Linked DNA regions of Homo sapiens. The protein of the gene in region 3 interacts with the protein of the main gene of each other region in a pairwise test. Each region holds a gene or a part of one and is shown on either strand. Other genes may lie near its edges. The genes, in order: TMED8, HCK and MDK.

What was found.
Region 1: the proteins of MDK (region 3) and TMED8 interact in binary tests that used the Homo sapiens proteins (3 or more experiments, as listed by UniProt).
Region 2: the proteins of MDK (region 3) and HCK interact in binary tests that used the Homo sapiens proteins (3 or more experiments, as listed by UniProt).

Annotation. Positions count from the first base shown.
Region 1 is NC_000014.9:77,375,384-77,379,127, forward strand, and holds the start of TMED8 (protein TMED8), read right to left. Parts: upstream 1,712-3,744; 5' UTR 1,671-1,711; coding exon 1,553-1,670; intron 1-1,552. Other genes in the region: SAMD15 (sterile alpha motif domain-containing protein 15), read left to right, coding at 2,036-3,724.
Region 2 is NC_000020.11:32,069,236-32,072,979, forward strand, and holds part of HCK (tyrosine-protein kinase HCK), read left to right. Parts: intron 1-452; exon of another isoform or gene 453-516; intron 517-2,426; coding exon 2,427-2,547; intron 2,548-3,744. UniProt on the Homo sapiens protein: Non-receptor tyrosine-protein kinase found in hematopoietic cells that transmits signals from cell surface receptors and plays an important role in the regulation of innate immune responses, including neutrophil, monocyte, macrophage and mast cell functions, phagocytosis, cell survival and proliferation, cell adhesion and migration.
Region 3 is NC_000011.10:46,379,465-46,383,208, reverse strand, and holds the start of MDK (midkine isoform a precursor), read right to left. Parts: upstream 1,541-3,744; 5' UTR 1,451-1,540; exon of another isoform or gene 1,153-1,450; 5' UTR 1,152-1,152; coding exon 1,076-1,151; intron 916-1,075; coding exon 748-915; intron 623-747; coding exon 461-622; intron 1-460. Other genes in the region: DGKZ (diacylglycerol kinase zeta), read right to left, coding at 3,262-3,378, 3,641-3,740. UniProt on the Homo sapiens protein: Secreted protein that functions as a cytokine and growth factor and mediates its signal through cell-surface proteoglycan and non-proteoglycan receptors. Binds cell-surface proteoglycan receptors via their chondroitin sulfate (CS) groups.

The DNA.
Region 1 (3,744 bases), on a different chromosome or scaffold from region 3:
ATAAACACATGAGAACCTAAAGGGGAAGTAAAAACATGCTTAATTTGTAAATACTGGCGCATGCAAGGGACAAGTGTTATAAGACTTACCTTTCTGTGTTTACTTGCTTAGTCTTTTAGACATTATGCTTAGAATTTCTACTGCTATGTTAAATATATGCCAACGATTTTTAATTTAATACAAAGCAGAGTTCGTAAGAAAAAAAGGCAAAATTTGTCAGGTGTTTTAAAGTAAAAGAATATAAAATCATGGGAAAGAGCTGGGTGAGTTGTGTGTGTGTTTGAATAAGGCAGCATTATGAGAGGGAAGATACTTGGGATCAGAGTAGAAGACAGAAAAAGGCACCATGTTGGAAGCCATACATCCAAGAACACCTCTGGCGGCACAGGAAGTTCAACTGAACAAAAAGAGACCTTACTGTCACAATGGTTGAGACGAGTATAGTGTGTACCATGGACTATACCCCAAATGCCTTAGACAAAGCAGCTCAAGTAATCCTCACAATAATCCTATGAGGCAGATATTTTTAGTAATCACATTTTACAGATGAGGAAACTGACGTTTCAGACTCCAATCCAGGCACCCTGGCTCCACAGTAGTGCCTCAACCATTATACTTTATGGTGTCTATTTTAATTTCAGACCTAGAAAATTAATTTATATTTGCTACTTAAATAAGACAAGTTCTCTCCCCTCTACCCTTTCGTATTTCAAAAGAGCATCCTTTCAGTTGCATCGTGTGTGGTGTTCAGGAGGCTGAAAGAAGAAAGTGTGATGGATGGACTCTTTTGTCTTTGGACACTGAAATAATACACACGGAGGAACTCGCGTTAGTAGAAATGGAGACGTCGTCCTGGACAAGAAGAGGATGAGGGTCTTGAGAATGAGGGAGGTAGGCCAAATTTTTAATTCCTGCTCTTGCTTTGGCTACTGTGTTCAAGCAAAAGACCCCAGACACTACCTATTTCAACTCTGCTTTTCATTTTTCCCACTCTAAGCGATGGAGAGGATGGCAGCAAGGCCAGGGGGCCTATGTGCAGGAAGGCTAGGGCGCAGTGGGCTTCTGGCAGAGGAAGGCAAGGCTGCCAACCCGGGTGGGGGCCGAGAGGCGCGTGGTAAGGCTGGGGCAGGGGACTGAGATGGGGATAGGGTGGGGAGCCAGAAGCAGGGGGCGGCGAGGCCAGTAGGGTTCGGGTCGGCAGTCTAGATGTGATTAGCAGACGGAGGTGGGACCCGAACCCCGGCTGAAGCTGAAACTGAAGCTGAAGAGGCGCCAGGGGCAGAGCCACCCTGTCACTACCATTTGGGCAGATCTCAGAAAGGAAGCGGGGCAGGAATCAAGGCATTTCGAAACAGGAGTGAGTAGAAAATAACCTCGAGCCCAGGGCCCGGGTGGTGGCAGCGGCGGGGAAGGGGCCCCGCGCGCGAAGGGGCTGCCGAGGTGGGTCCGCTCCGCGGGGAAGCCCAGGACAGAGCGCGGCGGAGGCTCGCGCCGTGGTGCGGGGCCCTGAGGCCGGGCGGCACCCACCCGCCAGCGCCCCGGCCTTGCGTACCTGAGGCGGCCGCCTGGCTCCCCTCCACTCCCTGGCAGTCCCCGACGCCGCCAGCCGACCCTGGGCGGGCTGTGGGGCTCCAGGAGCCCGGCCCCTCAGCCGCCTGCAGGTCAGACATCTGCAGCCCGCGCACGGAGCTCTCCGCTGCCAGCCGCGAGTGGCTCCGGAAACAGCCGAAGGCCGAGCGAGCGCCGAGCACAGCCGAGCGCAGCCTGCAGGCCGGAAGAAGCGGCGCGGCGGCCGCTTGAAAAGCTAGCTGACCCAGGGGCGGCCACAGGAGCTCTGGCCCGCTGAGGCTGGCGATGAGGCCGCAGGGAGGGTTACTGCGTGCTTGTGACAGACGATTTTTAAAGTCAGGGCTTGAAAGAACAAACAAAACCTGGGGAAGAGTCAGGAAGACACTGCCGGAAATCGTGGTATCCATAGAGACGCTATCGGAAGTTGGGGTTGCTAGGAAGCCGCGGCGCGTCTGCTAAGCTGCAAATGGCTGAAGTCCCGGAGGATTATGATTCCGGCCCAGATGAAGATGGAGAGCTGGAGCCTGAGAGGCCTGAACTGCCTGGACTTCATAAATTGTATGAAAATGCCGAACCAGACACCATGGCAAAGGCAGACTCGAAGCTACCAGCAGAGATTTACCAAGAGCCACAGCCAGAGACCGAGGAAGAGGACTTCAAAGAGGGGGAGCCAGACAGTGCTAAGAACGTGCAGCTGAAACCTGGCGGGACGTCCCAGGAAGGAATTGCCAAGGAGTCCAAGAGAGACGTACCAAGCGAAACTGAACCAGGGATACACCAAGAGGTAAAGTCGGAAACATCCAGAGAGATGGGAGAGTTTTTCAAAGATTTGGAGGCCCCTATGGATGAAACGCATAAAGAGTCAGACCTAGAGCCACCAGAGGAGGCTAAACCAAATGTTACAGAGGATGTGTTCCTAGAGTCAGCTATGGAAACAGATCCAGATCCAGTGCCACCAACGGAAACCATGTCTGAGGTTTCGGGGGCCACAGTCAGAGAGAGAAATTTAGAATTACTAGAGGAGGAGACTGAACCGGGGGTTCCAGAGGAATCACTTAGAGTGCAACATGAAGAGACAGGTCTAGAGCCTCCAGAGCAGACCAAACAAGATTTTCCAAGTGAGAAACTAGGAGAATCACTTGAAGAGACAGATCTTCAGCCACCAAAGATGACCAAACCAGAGACTCCAGAGGAGACACAAAGAGAGTCAACTGAGAAGAAAAGGACAGAGCCACCCGAGCAGGCTAGACTGGAATTTCTGGAGAAGGAACCAAGAAAGTCTAGTGAGGAGGCAGGTCTAGAGCCTCCAGAAGAGACTCAACCAGAGGTTCCAGAGGAGATGCAAAGAAAGGCAACTGAGGAGAAAGGGACAGAACTACCTGAGCGGACTAAACCAGACTTTCCAGACCACAAGCCAAGAAAGTCTACTGATGAGAACGTTCCTGAGCCACTAGAAGAGATCAAATTAGAGTTTCCTGAGGAAGAATCAAGAAAAACAAATGAGGAAACAATTCTAGAACAATCAGAAATGATGAAACCAGAAAGTCCAGAAGAGATAAGAAAGTCAAATGAGAAAAAAAATCCACAGCCACCAGAGGAGACTGGTCCAGTGCTACCACAGGAGATCAACCCACAAGTTGAAGAGAAAACACAAACAAAGCCAACTGAGAAAATTCTAGAGTTACCAGATGAAACCAAACCAAGGGAGACACATGTAGAATTTTCCAAGGAAGACAGGCCAGAACCAATAAAGTCTAAGTATTCTGTAGGAAACGATGAGCTAGAGCACCGTGAGCCTAAAAGAGGAAAGTTGTCACTAAGTGACAAATTTAGAAAAGAATATTACGCATTAGGATCTCTCAGAGAAAGTGAAGAATCAATTGGTACACATTATGAGTTTTTGCAACCACTCCAAAAATTGCTTAATGTCAGTGAAGAATGCTCATACTCAGATCCCTCAGAGTCTCAGACAGAATTAAGTGAGTTCGTTCATGAAAAGGAAGTTGTAGATTTGTCCCAAGAGTTGAAGGAACGGGTCTCTGAAGATGACGAAACCCAGCCAGAAAAAGGGACTGAGTTACAATTTGAGCATCTTAATTGGGATCCAGAGGAAGTTGCAGAGTGGATTAGCCAGCTAGGCTTCCCTCAATACAAGGTATACAAAAATAAGATGTT
Region 2 (3,744 bases), on a different chromosome or scaffold from region 3:
GGCCTTGGATTGTGAATGAACACAGGTCTTCTGAGACCCCTCCCTCGGGACCCTGTGGCCATCTTGAATATGTACATTGATCACGTAAGTGAAGCATACAAGGTGCTCAACGCGCATGGATTGGAAATCACAAGACTCACAGCTGCAGATCAGTGGGTGCCCAGAGAGGTAGAGTGAGCTGCCCTACCTCACACAGTGCTGCTCTTCCCAGAACATCTTTATGCTGACCAAAACACACGAAATGTGATATAATTTTATGTCATATATGTCACACAAGATGCCCGTTTAATTTCCCAGAACTGTAATACACATTTATCTCAAAGAGAGATGCTGGTTTCAGTTTTAAATGCATGCAAGTACATTATAAATCTGTGCTTAATTATGATAATTTTTCAAATTAATGATCCAGCACTCCAAGAGTCTGAATGTGTTCCTTATTTTATTTCCAAAAGACAAACAAAGCAAAACCGCTCAAGTCTTGAGGTGGCAAATCTTTCCCAGTTCCCACCAGAAGAGGTAAATCCTTGTAAATAAAAGGAATCTTTTTTCATTTTTAAAAGTAACTCATCTAAGCCTAGGAGTTTGGGGTTTTTTTCCTTAAACCACAAATACATGTTTATTTTAACAAGATAAGTATAACTGAGTTCTAACTGCTTTAGAAGAAAATGGCAATTGTGCAGAGATGAGAAAAGCAAGCACTTCCTTATGTGGTTGTCACAGCCTGCCTTCTCAGCAAATGTGTGTGCACATTTTGAGAAAAGAAATGAAACATTTCTTCCACTTTTACAATTATGTTTTGACTCTACTTGGAGTAAATGTGTTTTGTTTAAGCATCCTTAAATTAATTCAATACAGCAGCAAAGTCTGCAAGCTCTACCTCCAAAATGTCCCCCAAACCTGTCCAATGCTTACCTCCTCTCTGCCCCCACACTACCCTGGGCCACCATCATCTCATACCTGAACAATTTTGGCAGATTTCTCACAGGGTTCCCTCCCCTGCTCCCCACTGTCCACGCCTCACTCAGCCACCGGTGGGATTATTTAAAGTGCAAATTGAATCCCATCATTCTCCTGCCAGAAACTTTCCATCATCCTTAGAATAAAATCCAAAGTCCTTACTGGCCCTACAGGATATGGTGGCCTTGTCACAACCACCCTCTTCCCTGCCCATGAGCTTCAGCTACACTCTCCTGCTTTCAGTGCCTCCAACTTCTCTCTAAGCACATGCCAGCCTCAGGGCCTTTGCATTTGCTGTTCCCTCTGCCTGGAACACTCTTCCCTCAGAGTGTCCCCTCACTGGCTCCTTTGTGTCATTTAGACCGCAGGTTCTGTATCCCTTTCTCTGACAGGCCTTCCCCAAATGCCCTGCCTAAAAGAGCCAGACCTGTTGTTCCCCACAGCATCCTCTCTTATTGTCCTCACACTTTTCATTAACTCAATTTGCCCTGTTATTTATTTGTTGGCCTGTTTATTGTCTCTGTCTCCCATTCGGCTGCAGTTGAGGTCCTGAGGGCGTGAACTTGCTTCTCTTCTTCACAGTTTAGAAAAGTGCCCAGTAAATCTTGGCTGTGTAAATGGATGAATGAATTACCAAACAACTCAGAGAGAGACAGAGAGAAAGAGAGGAGGAAGAGGAAGAGGAAGAAGACGAAGAAAGAGGAGGAGGAGGGAGGACAGAGGAGGGGGAAGGAGGAGGAGGGGAAGGAGGAGGAGGGGGAAGGAAGAGGAGGGGGAGCAGGAAGGAAGGGAGGGAGGGAGGGAGGGAAGGAGTTATAAGCAATTTATAAATTGATACCAGTAATACGGTGCCTTGACAAACTAGATTGTTTGAGCCATGTTATGTGACCTCATCTTGTTATTTAATATAAAAATGGCAATTTATCATCTGATAATACTGCAGTTTTTCTGTAGTGTTTGCTCTGAGCCTGACACTGCACTGAGTATTTCCCCACTGTAGGTCATATTATTGTCCCCATTTTGCCGATGAAGACCTGAGAGGTGGGTAGGGGCAGGAAAGTGGTCAGTGAGGTGCTGGTGGGGTGGAGGGGCCAAGGATCAGCTGAGGCTTTCTGACCTGAGAGCTGGCAGTGCCCACCCAACAGCTCTACCTGTTACATTTCTGTTATCCTCATGCCATCCTCTGAATAAACATCCATCACGCTGGTCCTTGGTACCCACGACAATGACAGCTTGTCAGCCCTGGGCCAGTGCTGTGGCACGTGGACATGGGGAAGCCCAGAGGTGGCAAGGATGGAGTGGGTTCCATGTGGGGAGGATAAGGGTGCATGGAGCTGGCAGGGGAGTTAAGACCGGGAAGGCCAGTGGGAGCCAGCCCGGGGGCAGGGGACCTGGAATGCCAGCATCAGAAGACTTCCCCGCATGAGGCTCTTGGTAACTGGGGCTCACCTCCCTTCTGTCTGCTGCAGGATGGGGTGCATGAAGTCCAAGTTCCTCCAGGTCGGAGGCAATACATTCTCAAAAACTGAAACCAGCGCCAGCCCACACTGTCCTGTGTACGTGCCGGATCCCACATCCACCATCAAGCCGGTGAGTAGGGGAGGTCCCAGTTTCCCTGGGGGCTGACGGATGCTGCCCCAACATTGCCCTAACAGCCTCCTGTCTTCCCAAGGTTGGGCAGGGTGAGCTTGGGGTGAAAGGGAGCTGACTGGCCACCAACAGTGTCCTGACTCGACTCTCCGGGACGCAGCGCCAGCCAGCATGCATAGGGGCAAAGAAGTCATCTCTCTTTCCTGCAGCCCAGGCTTGGCCCCTCAGCCTGAGCTCCACCAAACAGGTGTGAGTGAGCATCTCAGGCCTCCGGCCTGGGCAGAAGCAAAAGCAGTGCTGAGAAACGAGTGAACAGTAATGATAGCAGCTGAAGTGACAATGTAATGGTAGTATCAGCAGCATTGCAAAAATACAGTAACAATTGTCATACTAATAGTACCAACCATAATTGCGTGAGTATAAGACCAAGAGTAGCAGCAGGAACAACAGCAAGAGTTGTAAAAAGAGAAGCAGTCATGCTAGGAGAGGTATTTACCAACTTCTTTTATGTTTATACAAAGCTGACTATGAACCCAGCACTGTTGTAAGCCTTTACGGTTATTAACACCCTAATCCTCACAATAATCCTATTGTGTGACACACAAATACATTCTTCTTGAAAATAAAAACACAGGCCAGGTGCAGTGGCTCACACTTGTACTCCCAGCATTTTGGGAGGCTGAGGCAGGAGGATTACTTGAGCCCAGGAGTTCGAACTGCATGAGCTATGATCACGCCACTGCACTCCAGCCTGGGCAATACAGGGAGACCCTGTCTCTTTAAAAAAAAAAAAAAAAAAAAAAAAAAAGAGCTGCTTAGAATGCCATAGTTTAGGTGTCACTTCCCCCTTGCATGGACACTTAGATTGTTTCACATACATAACAGAGCCTTTATTTATGGAATATAAATCACTGGTGGGCCTGTGATTTCTCCAAACTTAGTCGGAAAACACTGATCTGGACCGACCCCTTCACTGTGTGTTGAGGGGAGGGGTCAAGCAGCATCCCCCGGTACATCCAAGACCGAAGGCCGAGGTCACAGCTCAAGAAACCTGGATCCTGGCTGGGCACAGTGGCTCACTCCTGTAATCCCAGCACTTTGGGAGGTCAGGAGTTCTAGACCAGCCGGGCCAACATGGTGAAACCCCATCTCTACTAAAAATACAAAATTAGCCAGGCATGGTGGCATGCGCCTGTA
Region 3 (3,744 bases):
CCTCAGCCTCCTCACCTGAGAAGCGGGCAGATTCACCCCTGCCCTGCTGGCCTCGCTGGGCTGAGTCACGAGTGAGCTGAGAGGCCCAGGGTGGGCCTTGACCTCCTCCCAACACTAGAAAGGGCAGAGCTGACCAAATGCTGCCCGTGGCTGGAGAGCTGACAAAGGCAAGCCGTTCCAGGACACTCTCCCTGGGTCCTAAGCCAGATGCTCCAATGGAGTAGTTTGAGTTGGTCCCTATTTGGGCCAGGGAGGATTTATGTCCCCAGCATCACCTGCGGCCTCTCTTGTAGTGCCCATCTTCAGACTTTTCCAGGCAGGGAAGCCAAGTGAGGCGATGTCAGGAAGCCACTGGCCAGGACTCAAAACTTAAGGTTTAACTTGGAATTGTCCCCTCACAGGCGGGGGGGGGGGGGGGCAGCCCCCCGCGACAGCCCCACCCCCTTCTCCTTTCGCTGACCTTTGGCCTTTGCTTTGGTCTTGGGGGTGCAGGGCTTGGTGACGCGGATGGTCTCCTGGCACTGAGCATTGTAGCGCGCCTTCTTCAGGGTGCCTTGGCGGACTTTGGTGCCTGTGCCCCCATCACACGCACCCCAGTTCTCAAACTTGTACTTGCAGTCGGCTGGCGAGAGAGCGGCCCAGGTCAGCGCTGCGCGGCCCGCGGCCCCGCCCTCCGCCAAGGGTCCGCCCAGGCTTCGGCGAGGCTGTGCCCCCCGTCTCCTGCCCTCTGACTGCGCCCCGCCTCACCTCCAAACTCCTTCTTCCAGTTGCAGGGCACCCTGCACCGGATGCGCTGGGTCTGGGCCCCGCAGGTGCCCTCGCGGAAACCCACGCCGCAATCCTTGCTGCTGGGGGTGCAGGGCCCCCAGGCCCACTCAGCGCACTCGCTCCCCGGGCCGCCCTTCTTCACCTTATCTACAACGCGCGAGGAACAGAGTTCAGGACTGGGGCACGGGGAGACTCCCTCGGGAGCCGCCTTCCTGGGGTTCCAGGCTAGGAACCCAGGCGGCCCAGCCCAGAAGTGGAGGGGCCTCGCCTGCCCGTCCCCAGCCCTCCTTCGATCATCCCCCATCACCTTTCTTTTTGGCGACCGCGGAGGTGAGCGCCAGCAGGGCGAGGAGGGTGAGGAGGAGGAAGCCTCGGTGCTGCATCCTGAGGGGAGAGCCCGAGTCTGAATCCCTGGCCCGTCCCCTTCCCCACCGGGGGCCGCGTGCAGGGCCCTCCCACCTCCGCGTGCTCCACTTTCCAGGCCCCAAGTCGGGCTGCTAAGGTGGCGGCGGTGGGAAGACTTGGGGCGGCCCCTCGCCGCTAGCCCGGACGCACCGCTAAGAGGCGACTCCCCGGGGGACGCCTCGAGCCCAGGACGCAGCTCAGACCCCCACCCCCGCCTCCAGCCCCCAGCCCCTAGATCGGCCGCGGCCGGGCGGACCAGGGGCCGCCGCGCGCTCACTCGCTCGCTGCCCGCGCTGCTTCGCTCCCTCCCGCGCCGGGCCCGTCCCGCTCCGGCCGCCGCGGCCCCTTTTGTCTCCAGAACCGGTCTGAGCCGGTCACATGGGCCCCCGCCCCCTCTCCCCACCCCCCCAGGGAAGGACCCGCCCCGCCCCCTCCCCTCAAACCCGCACCGCCCCCGACCCCGGCGTCCCCGCCCCCGCTCCAGCCCGCGCCCCCCGCGCTTCTACTCCGGCGTCCGTGTTCCCGGCCCCGCGTCCTCGCGTCTCCCCGCCGGTGCCCTCTGCGCTGCGACGGCGGCCTCTCCCGGCCCCATCTTCCGAGCGGTGGTCTCCCGACCCCGGGCCCCGTCCCGCCCGCGCACACCGGCCCCCGGCCCACTCCCTGCGCCGCCGCCCGCTGCCCCCATCCCAGGTCGTCCCCTGCCGTACGCCAAGGCCCGGGCCGTTCTCAGGCCTCAGCTTCTCTTGCCTGCCGCGGAGCCCCGGCGCCTGTATAACCCGCGGGACCCGCTCCCCTCCACGGCCGGCTCAGCCCTGGCGCCCTGCTGGCTGCTGGGGAGGGGGCGCGGCCCACCTGGGGCGGTTTCCGCGGGTGGGCAGGGAAGCGCTCTGCTGTGCTGGGGGGAGTCTGGGACCCGGTCGCCCAGAGAAAGCCACGGGTGCGGTCGCCCAGTGCCTTTCCGGGAGCACAGGCTTGAGGGACTGCGAGTGGGGGTCCTGGGGGAGGAGCCCGCAGGCCTGGATTTGGTGAAACTTGGCGCTGACAGGAGCCGTCTGAGAAGTTCCAGATCCAGCCACATCGGCAGCTGCAAGTGCCCACCCCCTCTAACCCTGGGCCTGTGGCATTGCCTCGCCCGGTTCCCCCAAACCGGGAGAGCCCCCGAGGCCTGGGGGAGGGGCTTGCTCAAGGCCACAGGGCAAATGGGCCACAGAACCCGGGCTCGCCCCCGCCCCACCCCTCTTTCACTTTCATTGTTGTTCTCCGCGGGAAGCGGGAAGCCGGAGGGATCGGCCCCGCCCCCGGCCCCGACGAGCGCGGCCGCCGGGCAGAGGTCAGGAACCGGGCAGGCCCTGGGACCAACCACCAAACGGGAGCCGGGGCCCCAGGAAGGTGCTGTCGACAGCGTCCAGTCCCCCACCCCGAGGACAACCCCGCAGCCCCCGCTGCTTGTTAGACCTCCCCCGCAAAAGAAGAAAAGCAGAAAAGAAAAAAAAATCCACTTTACTGAGTCACACCCAGCTGTAAACATGTCACCGTGAGAGTCCCGCCCCCCACCCCCAGGCCGCACAGTCCGCGATGAAATGACAGGGGAGCGGGGAGGGTCGCCGGAGCGGGTGCCAAGCAAGGCAGGGCAGGCAAGTGCAGCAGGCGCTGAGTTTCCGGGAGGAAGCCCGGAGGAGGTGGGGTGGGGCAGGAGCGGGGGCTGGGGACCCGGCCGAAGACCAGGGGGCCCAGGAAGCCTCTTCCCGAAGGCCTCCCCCTCTCCAGCCCCTCCACTCCTGGGAGGGCATCTGCTGCGGCCAGGGAGCGCCCTGCCCCAGAACCCCGGCAAAGGCATATCCAACCCAGCCGTGTCTTGTTCCCTGTGAGCCTCCGGGTCCGGCGGGGTCCTCAGGGGAACAGGTGAGGCCCCCCCAGCTCCTGAGTCCAGCCCTAGGTCTGGGCGGCTCCTTAGGGGGCGGCATGGGGCTCTTTCCCTGGGGCCTAGGTCCCCCCGTGGCCGTCCCACTGGAATGTGGCAGTGAGGTGGGCAAGGAAGGCGCTCGTCCCCTGGCCGCATTGTCCCTCCTGCTGCCCGTGGGCGGCCCGCTACACAGCCGTCTCCTGGTCCTCCCGCTGGATCATCTGGTAGTGCTGCCGGTTCTCCAGGTAGGCGGCCAGCTCGGTGTCCTGAGCCTTCTCAGCCCGCTGCCGGGGAGTGTCGCCCTGGAGGAGGGCGGAGCTGCGATCAGCAGGGGCCAGAGGCAGGCCTAACCCCTAGCAGGCTGAGAGGCAGGGGCTCTACCTCCCTGTGGCCTGGTCAGGGAGGGAGGCCTCTCTGCCCACCAGCTCCTCCCCTGCTGGCTCAGGTTTCCCAGGGTCTGGACTGTGTCTTCCCAGGGACAGCCCCCAGCCCCAGCTCCCGCCTAGGACCTTGGGAAAGGTTTGGTTGGTGCCCTCGTGGGCTCCCTGCCTGCCGTCTGCTCACCTGCTGGTCTGTCTTCATGAGCGAGGCCCCGGCCTCCACGATGTAGTGGCAGATGGTGCGCTGGCCCAGGGCCGCTGCTTGGTGCAAACAGGTCTCCCCGCTGG